Linked DNA regions of Homo sapiens: regions 2 and 3 are each linked to region 1. The links come from fine-mapping of genetic effects on gene expression. A gene starts in region 1. Each other region holds a variant in brackets. All regions are shown on one strand. Distances are from middle to middle. Region 1 holds the start of MRTFB (myocardin related transcription factor B). Region 2 overlaps MRTFB (myocardin related transcription factor B). Region 3 overlaps MRTFB (myocardin related transcription factor B).

Region 1 (4,245 bases):
AACGGGCAGATTAAGCCCACTATAAACTGGCATTACTTTACAATATTTAAAAGTTTTTATAAGAAATTGCAGGGAAACTCCAGTAATGTAGGAGAAAGTAGCAAGGGAAGCTTAAATAGAGTAAGGGAAAACTGTCTAAACATTAGCGATCGTTTCCTCACACCACACACCGTTAACATACAATTGTAGTATCAGAATACTGAGCATATACAAACAAGTGAGATACTGATATTGAACCAAAAATTTTCAACCTTGTTAATATTTTATTAATTATTACCAATGGTAATTGTTAGGAAGCCAGTATTGTCCCTTCGAGTGTGTGACACAAAAAATTCTACAATATAGTTTAAAAATATGGATCCATGGAGGGCTTGTGCTAATATTTACGTATTTATTGAGACAGTCTGTTATTTGTCTTGCCATGTTATCCCTAGTTCAATCTAGGTTGTTTCTCTCTTTAATTCGCAAGAAACAGGTTATGCCAACCTAGGTGTTTTTCCCAACCTCCGTCTGTATCTCTGCTCTTTCCCTGAAGTAGCGGCCTCACTCTGTAGCCCAGGCTGGAGGGCAGTGGTGCAATCACAGCTCACTGCAGCCTTTAACTCCTGGGCTCAAGAGATCCCCTCACCTCAGCCTCCCAAGCAGCTGAGACTACAGGTGTGCGCCACCACACCACGCTAATTTTTTCTTTTTTTGTACAGGTGGGATCTCGCTATATTGCCCAGGCTTGCTCTTGTTTGAAATAGCTCCTCCTAATTTTTTTTAACCAATACAAATGTACTCATTAGAAGCTGGCACAAGCACCCCAGTATATACTGTCTTCCAGCACAAGAGTATGTCCTAGATGTGAATGGTACAGCAACATCTGTCATATACTGTTCTCTATTTCGCCCTTACGCTTCAATCAAACCATCATACTGCTTTTCAAGGATGTGTGTAGGGAGGTCACATTGTTTATGAATTTCATTTCAGGGTAGTAAAGAGGGCTTTATACATGTTTGCTGCAAAGGGGAAGAAGGGACCTTGATTCTGACGAGGTTGAGAACCACTGTTCCCAAGAGTGGAATCGCGTGCTGAAACAAAAATCGAACTTTTAGAGAAGAGTTTCCTTTGCCTAAGGCAAGCCCTGGGCTCCAATATTCCACTTCATTGGGCCTGACACCCCACTACCAGCACACGCCCGCTGCTCTCAGCCCACCTCTGCTTCCAAGCAGGGCCAAACAATGGTTCTTGACCACTTGGGGATCGGGGACCCTTTTAGGAACGAGACAAAAGCCCTGGAAAAACTCTCTCCCAAGAAACCCATATACCAAGCTGCATCCAACTTCAGGGCGCTCCCAGACACCCCCTCTGAAGCCTGGTCGGGACCCCAGGAGAAAAGGGCTGAGGGGAGTGGGAGGTGGGAAGAGGAAGGGGGCGCAGGGGTCCCGGTCCCCTCCCACCGCCTCCTCGCAGTGTGGCTCTGGCCCGGGCGCTCCACCTCTCTGTGCAGCCCCGGCGTGCAAGCGCGCAACTTAAGTGCCCGGCACACAGCAGAGGCTCCATAAACGCCGCTGCCACTGTCAGCAGGGCCAACTCTGCAGTCGAGATGGACACTGAGGCGGCCCCGGGGTCGCGCCCGGGCGCGAGGACCGGTTGAAGGAGGCACCGGCCCGCGGCCCCGGCCGCCCCGCCCCGCGCGAGTCCCGGGGACGGTGCGGACCAAACGGCGCCGCAGCTGCTGCGGGGACGAACAGGGATGGCTGCCTGGGACGCGGGATGTTCACCAGGCCCGCTCCCCCACCCAGCCCTCGGTCTCGGCCGCTCTCACCCGGCCTCAGCCCCCAACGGCCGCCACCGCCCGCCGCTCACCTCCCCGGCCGCCGCCGCCGCCGCTCCCGCCGCCGCCGCGCGATCTCGCGAGACTTCGCTCCCCTCGGCACTCCCCCTCCTCCCCGCGGCGCGCGCGGACCCCAGGCTAGAAGCGGCTCGGCGCGCTCCCCGGACGCTGCCCACCCCGCCTCAAGGGTCAAGCCCGGCCTCTCTCGCTGCTCGCCCCCGACTCCGTCCCTGCGTGCACTCCGCCCACTCCCGTGACTGGGAAGGGTTAAAGCCCAGGTGCGAGGCGGCCGCCTCCTTCTCACCTGGCCGGCCGGGTGCGCGTGCGCATGCGCATGTCCGGGGCTCGGCCCTGAGCCTCTGCAAAGGCTTGGACGGTGGCGACAAAGGTGACCGCTGCCACCCGTCCTGAGTGCTCGCTGCGCGCCGAGCACTTAACAGCCCCCTTCGGTCCTCACACTGCCCTCCAAAGTGGGTATTACCAGCCTCCCCATTCTAGAGAGAGGAAAAATGGAGGCCTGGCAAGGAAAGTACAGTAATGGCTCCATGTCACACAGCCAGGAATTGGCTGAGCCAGTGTTGGGATCTGGGGTTGTCTGATGCCCAGCCCAAAACCCATTTCTGCACCTCAGTGACAGCCCCCAGGCCCTGTCCCTCTTTCCGTTCAAGGCTCAAGGCGCTGCCTCTCAGCCGCAGTCTTCATTCTCTCCCAACATTCACCAAGGTGAGAGGAGGAGCTCCTGGGAAGTCATTTGCTACAATCTGTTTTCAATGGAGCTGGCGACAGTAAAGTGCTTCTCCCTCACTTTACAAACTTCCCAAGGCCTGTGAAGCCCCTGTGCCACTCCCTGTGCAGCTCTGAAGACTGTGTGACTATTTTTATGCGGTTCTGTCTCCTCCTTAGACTGGTGGCGTTTTGCTGGTAGAGAGCATGATGGAATGGCACACAGGACAGAGAATCAGAATGTACATGATGTTAGCACACAGAAAAGTGTGACTTCTTCCCAGGAGTAAGTCTTAATGAAATAATAATTGTTTGTAAAGAGGAAGGGCTAACATTTATTGCGGGCATATCAAGGTCATACCAATCTTCTTGCAATCCTGGAGGTGGAGAAAGTAGCCTGTTTCCATTGTGAAATAGGATTTGAACCTGGGTCTGAGTCCGGAGCCCAGCACTACCTTGTAGGTAGGTCCTGTTCTGCAAGCAAGCGAGCATGAGCTAGCTCATCTGGGCCGGCTGCTGTAAGATCAGGAGCCCTGGAGGTTCTAGGTAGCCTTCCACCTGCAACAGCGTCTGCATGGGCTTACCCAGCCCACCTGATAATCACATCAATGTCAGCAAGTGCTGGCCTGCCCATGCTCCAAACCTGTCCACTCTCCCCGGAACCAATTGCTGTGTACAGGCCAGAGCATGTGGGTGCCCTTGCATGTTTCAACCTCACTCAACTCACCAGATGGAGGAAGTGGGTGAAGAAGGAAAATCACACCTGCTGGGCAGCTACAAAGTGCTGAGCCCTGCTCCAGGTGCTGTCTATTTATTAATTTATTTAGCCCTCCCAACAACCCTGTATTAGGGTTCTCCAGAGAAACACAGCTACTAGGTTCTAGATAGATGTAGGCTGGGCAAGGTTGCTCATTCCTGTAATCCCAGCACCTTAGGAGGTCCAGTCAGGAGGATCACTTGAGCCTAGGAGTTTTAGACCAGCCTGGGTAACACAGTGAGACCCCGTCTCTACAAAAAATAAAAAGAATTGGGCATGGTGGCACATGCCTGGAGTTCCAGTTACTCTGGAGGCTGATGTGAGAGGATCTCTTGAGCCCAGGAGTCGAGGCTGCAGTGAGCTCTGACTGTGCCACTGCCCTCCAGTCTGGACAACAGAGTGAGACCCTGTCTCTAAAAAAGAAAAAACTATATAGATTCATAAGAGGGGATGTATGATGGCAGCTGAGAAGTCCTACGATGTGCCATCTCCAAACTGGAAAGCCAGGGAAACTGGTGACATAGCTCAGTCGCAGTTGTGGCCCGAGAACCAGGGAATCTGATGGTGTAACTCTCAGTTCGAGGCTACAGGCCTGAGAACTTGGGAGCCACTGGAGCGAGTCCTAGAGTCCAAAGCTGGAGAACCTGGGCTGGGCGCAGTGGCTCATGCCTGTAATCCCAGCACTTTGGGAGGCTGACGCAGGTGGATCACCTGAGGTCAGGAGTTCAAGACCAGCCTGGCCAACATGGTGAAACCCCGTTCTCTACTACAAATACAAAAATTAGCCAGGTGTGGTGATGGGTGCCTGTAATCCCAGCTACTGGGGAGGCTGAGGCAGGAGAATCGCTTGAACCTGGGAAGAGGAGGTTGCACTGAGCTGAGATTGCATTATTGAACTCCAGCCTGGGCATCAAGTGAGACTGTCTCAAAAAAAAAAAAAAAAAAA
Region 2 (4,245 bases), 170 kb before region 1:
CTTTTGCTTCCTTGTGAGTGGTATTACCCCCTTGAAAATGAATGTAATTATTCTACTCAGGATGTTTTTTTTTTCCTGTTGAGATTCTATAATACTCTACCTATTAAAATGAACAGTTTGGTATTTTACTCAATCTTTAAAATAACAGAAACATGTTAATCTATTTTTCTCCCAAATCAATAGAGGGGAGAAAAAAGAGAGAGGTTGCTAACGAATGTGATCGGCAGATGAGAGACCTGCGTTCAGAGGGATGCAGTGGCCTTCGGGGACCTCCAGTGACCTCCCATTGTGCAGACAAGCTGGGCTGGACTAAAGCCTAGTCCCTTTGGGCGCTTGCTCCTTTGTGGTGGCAAAGGGCTACATGATTCAGGTAAACTCCCACCACTATGGGCACTCTATGACTTCCACATTCAGTTTCTTGTAATGGAATTTTGATAAATATAAACAATGCGTTAGGAAACAAGGCCTCCATTTTTAGGATCTGGAAATTGAACAGGACTTATATTCTTTTTGTGGTTAAATAATACACAAAAATAAGTGTTCTTTCTCCTTCTAATATCCTGGGTCTTTTTGTATGATACTATTCTTGGGTGAGCTTGGTTATTGTAGAGGTGCTGAATGTCTGAGGAGGAGAGGGGAATTGAAGCCTTAATGGAAAGACAAAGAACTGGTAACAGTTCAGCAAGCCCACACCTCTGATGGATTCTTCCTATCTACAAAGCCAGTCGCACAGCCAAATTCTTTCATTACAGAAAAGACTGTTTCAAAGATAAGGTGAAAATCCCAAAGGATTTTTTTTTATAACAGCGTCCTCATCTGGGAATGGGGTCAATAACAGCAATTCCTCCTAGACTTGAGGCGAGGATGAGGATGATGCACGGTTTTAAGCACAACGCATTGTAAGTAGTAACTGTGAGACATCATTACCATTATTATTATTATTATTATTATTATTATTATTATTATTATTATTATTGGTGCCCAATGCCAAAGGAGGATGGCAGTGGAGGAGGCCTCCCTAAGGCCTGGACAAAGCTGCAAAGTAGCAGCAGCTTGTCTGTGATTCTCTTCCAATTCTCTTTGGTATCCCCTGATTCCCTTCCAATGTCAATAGCTCACTCGGGCCTGCCTGCTCTTAAAATAGTAACTGGATACAAAGTTCTTTCTCTCTTCATCTCCATGCCCTGATGTTTTAGATTTAAGTACTTCACAATCAGGTCTGAATTACTAATAGGTTTAATCTTCCTCAAGATATTTGAATCTTAAGAGGGAAAAGAGGGGCTACCTATGAGGGAATGCTTACGCGACATGTAGAAAGCAGAAGTTTCTACAGGTCGTATAATCATAAGTTGAATAACCTGATCATGGCTAATAATTTTTCATTATAATGAGCTTTTGCATCTCTTTCTAGAGTTAAATGCAAATATTTCTTTTTCATGAAAAGTGAGGAAAATGAAGACAAGATCTTTGCATTTTTATCTCTGTTTCCCAGAAAAAGCATATTGGGAATGTATATCCAGAAATTTTCTTTATTACGTAATTAAAATTAGCCATTGATGTCTTGCTGTGAATTCAGTTTCAGAAATTGTCAGAATTCACTCCCTTCCGTCCCCCACAGTTGGGTTCAAACTTTGAAAACACCTTCCTTCTCCGCAGTTGTTCGTCACCAAGGCCTTTAACTGTCTTCTGAAACACTCACTCTGCTGCCAGAGCTCTTCATTGTCTCCAGACGTCCCTTCAACACCAGCATCCAGCTGTTTTTTCTTATATTTTGGCCTCACTGCGTCAGCAGCCTGCTCTGAAGCACTCCGTTGTCTATCTGCTGTGTTGAGTAAGGTCTTCTGCCCAGCTTCAAGTCCCCTTAGACATTGGCTGTACTCGATTTTTGTCTTCCACTTTTTACTTAAAAATTAATCAGATTCTTTGTTTAGGCAATTTTTCTCACCTTCCAATGAAGAGGCACTACTTACTCTATTCCTTCCTCTGTACTAGTGCTCACAGCATTCCCCTGTGCCTGGAAAGGCCCTTCTCGAGCCTTCTATATACAAAGATCCTGTCTTTTCCACCAGGCTTTCCTTTGACCACTCCAGCTTTCATGCCCATCCTTCTCTTCTTTTAGCTGTTTATGCCAGGTATTATACTACTTACGCTTTTCTCAGAGCATCTAGTACTATTTTGGTGTTCTAATAATAGGCAAATCTGGATGAATAATTGTGAAAAGGCATTTCTAACTTGTAAAAATTCAGAACCTATTTTGGAGGACAGAAACTG[G/A]AATGGAATGCAGGCCACTCTCACCATGTGGACTTCAGACACTGTGTGATAAGCTCTGATAACAAAGAAATGAAAATCATTACTGAGCACAAATAAATGACAACATTCAACTTTTGGTAACTTATAGTTCCTCATAAAAAACCACAGAAAACCCCGCGTTGAGGATAGCATGGGCCCCGCCGTACTTGAATGGTGCAGGCAGGATGGTCTGGTAGTTGTAGTGCTGCTTCTGCTGACTCAGGATCTGCAGTTGCAGGAACAGCTGCTGCTGCTGGAGCAGGCGGGCGTAGTTAGAGTCCATCTGCGGCTCATTCTTCTCACCCTTCTGATCTGGTGGAATGTATTGGTGGTACTTTAACTTCTTTACCCGTGGTTTGGGATCTTTGCACTTTTTGCTACGGTGTTTGTCATTTGGATTCTTGGGATGGCTTTGCTATTTTTGAGAAAAAGAAAATAACATTTAAAGAGATGTCACCACATAAAATCTTTTGTACTGCGTGACTAAATGATTTGAAATTAAAAAGAAATGTACCTTAGATACGGGTACAGCCACTTTGGAAAGCAATATGCTAAATTCGTTTCAAAAGCCATGAAAACGTTTGCATATTAACTTTGACCAATAAATTTTCTCCTGCTGCACTGTTCCCTCAGGGTATGGGCAAGATGCTCAGCATGAGCTGTTCAAACTCAATGCACGCTGACCTTGGGTCTCCCGTGTGAACACACTACCAAGTGCTTACACATACAATCTCCTAGTAAAAAACAAGCTGCATGCTAAATATACAATGGGAAAAGGTTAAGTATACTTCACCAAAACCATGTAATACCTAAAAATTCTGTGGAGAATATGTAAAAATGAAAAAATGCTTCCAATGAGAAGAAAACAATATAAACTATCTTTAAGCAATATAATACAAAAACAAATACTGAATGATATGAACATGAATTTGAAAATTTTTCAAATACTACATTTTTCCTTTGAAACTGGGATGTGAGACCATGTATCCCTCATCTCAAGATTAGGAATCAGATGATGTTTTCCTGAGGTCTTGTTGTCTTCTCAGTTTTTAAGTTATCAGATCACTTTATACTTTTCAGTATTCAGATTCTAAGATAGCGTCATCTGAAAAAAACCCATCCAAACAAACAAAAAAGAAAATATACGAAAGTATTGCTAAGCTTCTGTAGGGAACATACCCAACTTAATACAAAGACTTTGAGAAGTACTCAATTAAATGGAGCTATTGATATGATCACATTATCTATATTCATATCCAAAGAATTAGGACACTGCAACCAAAGAAGAATAAAACAAAACTCACTGCATTCTGCAGGTTAGGAATAGTCTCATTTCTAATGTTAGGCTATTCTAACATTCATAGAATGTGACTATTAACATTCTTGTTTATATCCTTCCTTTGGATATGTTTTAATATAATTGGGATGATACCATATATGCTTATTAGAAATGTGCCTTTCTCTCTTCATCTGACATGTCATGAATTCTTAAATCCCTGGTATAAAAGAATGATTCTGCAACAAGATTTTTATGGCCATTTTTACATAACAGTTTACGGACATAGCCAGCGGGGTGCTGGAGCCAGCTCTTACTCATGAGAACCAAACGTGTGCTGTTTCTCCCAATTGTGCATTCAGCAATATCACACCGGTAGCCTGAAACTGGCCACTGTGGGAATATTTACACCATGGGAATTGGCAAAGGCTATAATCTGCCCTCTGAGCCCAGCCAGTTATTAAACATTTACCGGCATACTACTGGACATAATATAATCCAATTAACTAGGAGCCTATTTTTAAACACTGGTAAATAAGAATTTATAAAAAGTAATTATGTATTGGAAATGATTGGTTGTTAATCTCATCTCATGCTTTCAGACTTGAGCATCAGGACCTGGCCTCCTAGTTCTTTACTGACTTCTACGACACATATGACAATCCCAATGCTCTTTACTT
Region 3 (4,245 bases), 30 kb before region 1:
GTTAGGATAAATTGTATATTCTCATCACTCTCTGAACTTTATTCGCTGAACTCAAGGCTTCCTATTCAATAAAATTTCCCTGAGCACCTTTGATCAGGAGTTTTGCTGGGTGCTGGGATATGGAGATGAGTAAGATCTATTCCCTGACTTTAAGGTAAGTAAGGAAGCCAGACAAGAAAACAGACATCACAACATAGTGTGGTAAAGAATATTAGATGAGAGCAAAGTGCTGTGAAAGCAAGGAGGTGTGCAGAGGGAGGGGTTTTAACACAACTGGCCAAGGATCAGCAAAGGGATCCCAGAGGAAGTAAGTGCTGGAGCTGAGTCTCAAAGAATAAGATTGTAAAGTAGAGGCAGATGTGGAAGAAAGAGAGGGCACTCCTGGCAAAGGGAGCTGATATACAAATGGTCTCTCTACTCCAAGACTTTGTATCACTCAACATGCTCTACTTCACCTTCTCCTTTCACCTTAAAGCTAATGCAACAGCATGCCCCCAGATAGAGAAAACTGCACATTCTAAAGTACCTACCATGAAAGGGAAAAAGGCAGACACACATACTATGTGAATATTATTAAACTCCAAGGCATGTAACAAGAGAAATAATACCATGTTTTAACATACTGCATTGTTTGCTGGACACAGAAAGTTTGAGAACAAATGAAACTAAAGAGCCAATCTTTAACACTGAAGAGCTAACAGTTTTTAAAGCAAGTATAAACACATGGAAATTCAGTTGCATTTGTTTAATTAGAATAAATAATATCTGTAAGTCTAAACGTAGATGTGGTGGGTGAGTTGAATTTACTCTAGAAAACACAAAAACTCTAAAGTAAATATCTTCTTATCTGTATATGACCCTTAATTATTTTCTTGAGTCCTTGAGAGGGGGGAAAATGGTTCCCTACCCAAAATATTAAACATGTACGAGTGATAACTCAACACATTTTGTCATTTCACCCCCAACTGGAAGAAAGGTATCATTATCATCTCCACTTTACCAATGAAGAGGCGACGTTAAGCCCGTGATTAAGAGTCAGGATTAGAACCCAGTTTCCTGACTCAAGAGTCTGGATTCTGGTTCTTGCACTGTCACAAAACTAGCTGCTTAGCCCACTTGCTGTTTTCTCCTCTACAAAATTAAGTTTTAACTTTGAAAATCAAACTATCAAAGGAGCAGCTTGCTCTTTCAACCACAATTTCTTTTTTTTTTTTTAAAAAGACTCAGGTTGCACTTTATTTTTCTTTAAAGAGAAACTAAAATAATACACACAAACCCTCTGCCCTCATGGCCATTTGAAAATAACTCCTCTATTTTTCTCCTTTTGTTTCTTCCCTACAATTGACCACCAGTCCCATTAGTGCCTCTCAGCAAACAGCTGTTATGTATTTTTCAAAATACCTAAATATAGTACCTTGATTTAAATTGGAGAGGAACTCAAACTTTCTAATAGGGACACTGAGAAGATGTTATTACATTAGGCTGGTTTCACTCCACTTATTTAAAAAATCATAGAATTCTATGCCTTTTTAATGATGAAAATCCTTTTTTAAAAAAACTCAGAACTTGTCTTAAACAAGGAATAGTTTATTGGAGAAATACCTGTTACTAAGTGACCCTAAGTTTTCAGTGGGATACTGATGTAGATCTTTATAATAATCTCACCTCACTCTACCCCCAAGTTTTCCTCCTCTTCAACAGAATCTTGTCAGCAACACTTGCCAAAACTATTACAGCTACAGTTACCATGACCACCACAAACAGTGTTAATAGAAATTGAAAGTAGATTTGTCAATCAAACCCAAAGGAACATCAGCTGTGTGCAAAATTACTCCTGGCATATTCTAACTCATTTTTCACAATACAGCAACCAAGAAGGAGATGTGTAGTCAATGTAAAATAAACTTTAAGAACTAATAATTTGGGTTTGGTCTGATAGATTTATCCATAGAATTCACCAAAATACGATACCTGAGACACCAACTTCTCCAAGGGGCTCTCCTCATGCCACTCCTCACAAGCTAAGCACTATTCTGTGTATTCCCTCTGCACCTCTACTTGCTTCTACCATAGTTATTACACTATAAGAAAAAGGACATAGGCTATATAT[C/T]TTAACTTTGTGTCTTAACTTCTCTGAGCCTCAATATCTTATATGTCTTAGAGAGGAAACAGCTCAAATCAGCATCTGAAATGAACTACACTTTACCCTTAAAATCAGAAAAACTTAGCAAAAAAAAAAAAAAACCCTACATAATTATGTGTACCCACAGAGAGAGTAAGCAGAAAAGAGAAAGCAGTGAAGAAAAGAGCAGAAAAATCAATGAAACAGAAAACAAAAAAATCGAGAAAAATCAATAAACCAAAAGCTGGTTCTTTGAGAAGGTAAATAAAATTGATAAACCTCCAGTTGGACTGATCAGGAAAAAAGAGAGAAGACACAGATTACCAATATCAGGAGTGAGAGAGGCAACGTCATCATAGATTCTATGCTAATAGGGGAATATTATGAAAAACTTTAAGCCAATAAATTCAACAACTTAGATGAAATGGACAAATTCCTTGAAAGATACTACTAAACTCACTCAAGAAGAAATAAATAACCTGAATAACCACAGATCTATTTTAAAAATTGAATTTGTAGTTTAAAATCTCTCAAAGAAAACATTAGATCCAAATAGCTTCACTGGTGAATTCTAGCAGATGTTTAAGGAAAAATGTAATACCAATTCTATCTAAATTCTTTCATAAAATTGAACAGGAGAAAATCCTCCCCATCTTGTTCTATTAGGCCAGCATTAACTTGATACCAAAACCAAAGACACTAGAAGAGGCTCTTATGTCCCTCATGAGCAGAGATATAAAAATTCTAAACAAAATTTTAACAAATTAAATTCAACACATAAGAAAAGGTACATGACCAAATGGGGTTTATCCTAGGAATGTAAGGCTGGTTTACCATGCGATACACAATACAATTCACCCTATTAACGAATTAAAAAATAACAACCATATGATTATCTCAATAGATGCTCAAAAATATCTAACAAAATCCAACATCCATTCCTGATTAAAAACTCTCAGCAAACTAGGAATAGAAGAGAACATCCTCAACCTGATAAAGGAGTCCACAATAAACCTATAGCTAACATCACACTTAATAATAAGACTTAGTGTTTTCCCTTTAATATGAGGAACAAGACAAGCATGTCCACTTTTACATTTCTATTCAACATTACACAGGCTCTGCTAGAGGTTCTGCTCGTTCAATAAGGCAAGAAAAATAAGTAACAGGCACTCAGATTAGAAAGGAAGAAGTAAAACTGTCTTCGTTTAAAAATAACATGATTATGAAAATCCAATAAACTCTACAAAAAAAGCTAGTAGTGAGTATAGAAAAGATGCAGAATGGCTGGGCACAGCAGCTCACACCTGTAATCCTAGCACTTTGGGAGTCCGAGGTGGGTTCACCTGAGGTCAGGAGTTCGAGACCAGCCTGGCCAACACAGTGAAATCCCATCTCTACTAAAAATACAAAAATTAGCTGGGCGTGGTGGTGTGTGCCTGTAATCCCAGCTACCTGGGAGGCTGAGGCAGGAGAATTGCTGGAACCAAGGAGGCGGAGGCTGCAGTGAGCCGAGATCGTGCCACTGCACTCCAGCCTGGACGACACAGTGAGACTCTGTCTCAAAAAAAAAAAAAAAGAAAAGAAAAGATGCAGAATACGGCTGGGCATGGTGACTCACACTTGTAATCCTAGCATTTTGGAAGGCCGAGGTAGATAGATCACTTGACCAGTCAGGCCAACAGGGTGAAACCCTGTCTCTACAAAAAATACAAAAAAATTAGCCGGACATGGTGGTATGCACCTGTGGTTCCAGCTTCTTAGGAGGACCACTTGAGCCAAGGAGGCGGAGGTTGCAGTGAGCTGAGATTACACCACTGCACTCCAGCCTGGGTGACAGACCCTCTGTCTTAAAAAAAAAAAAAAACCCACCAAAAAAACCCACGTAATTTTATATTGAAAATTTAAAAAATACTATTTTAATAACACCAAAAAATACAAAATATTTAGAATAAATCTGACAAAAGATGTGTAAGATCTCTACTTTAAAAACACTGCCTAGAGAAATTTTAAAAAATATAAATAAATTGAGAGAAATAACATGTTCTTGGTTTGGAAGACCCAGACTTAATGTTGTTAAGAAGTCAATTCTCTCCAAACTGACTATCAATATCTCAGTCAAA

Evidence for each region. PIP is the estimated chance that this variant, and not a neighbour inherited with it, causes the effect. A credible set is the group of variants that fine-mapping cannot tell apart.
Region 2: its variant is the best candidate, but not a certain one, in a credible set for the expression of MRTFB in unexposed skin (GTEx, PIP 0.72).
Region 3: its variant is the best candidate, but not a certain one, in a credible set for the expression of MRTFB in tibial nerve (GTEx, PIP 0.76).

The regions. Positions count from the first base shown.
Region 1 is chr16:14,068,972-14,073,216 of GRCh38, reverse strand. MRTFB (myocardin related transcription factor B) reads right to left here and starts at 1,898. Exons shown (of 17, transcript NM_001308142.2): 1 at 1,852-1,898. RefSeq lists silencers at 1,434-1,513, 1,654-2,123.
Region 2 is chr16:14,238,696-14,242,940 of GRCh38, reverse strand. MRTFB (myocardin related transcription factor B) reads right to left here. Exons shown (of 17, transcript NM_001308142.2): 10 at 2,457-2,704. Among named protein-coding and RNA genes, the nearest start is that of TRT-CGT2-1, 45 kb to the left of the region's middle. The variant G/A (reference allele first, on the strand shown) is at 2,272.
Region 3 is chr16:14,099,127-14,103,371 of GRCh38, reverse strand. All of the region lies in intron 2 of MRTFB (myocardin related transcription factor B), which reads right to left. Among named protein-coding and RNA genes, the nearest start is that of MRTFB, 30 kb to the right of the region's middle. The variant C/T (reference allele first, on the strand shown) is at 2,111.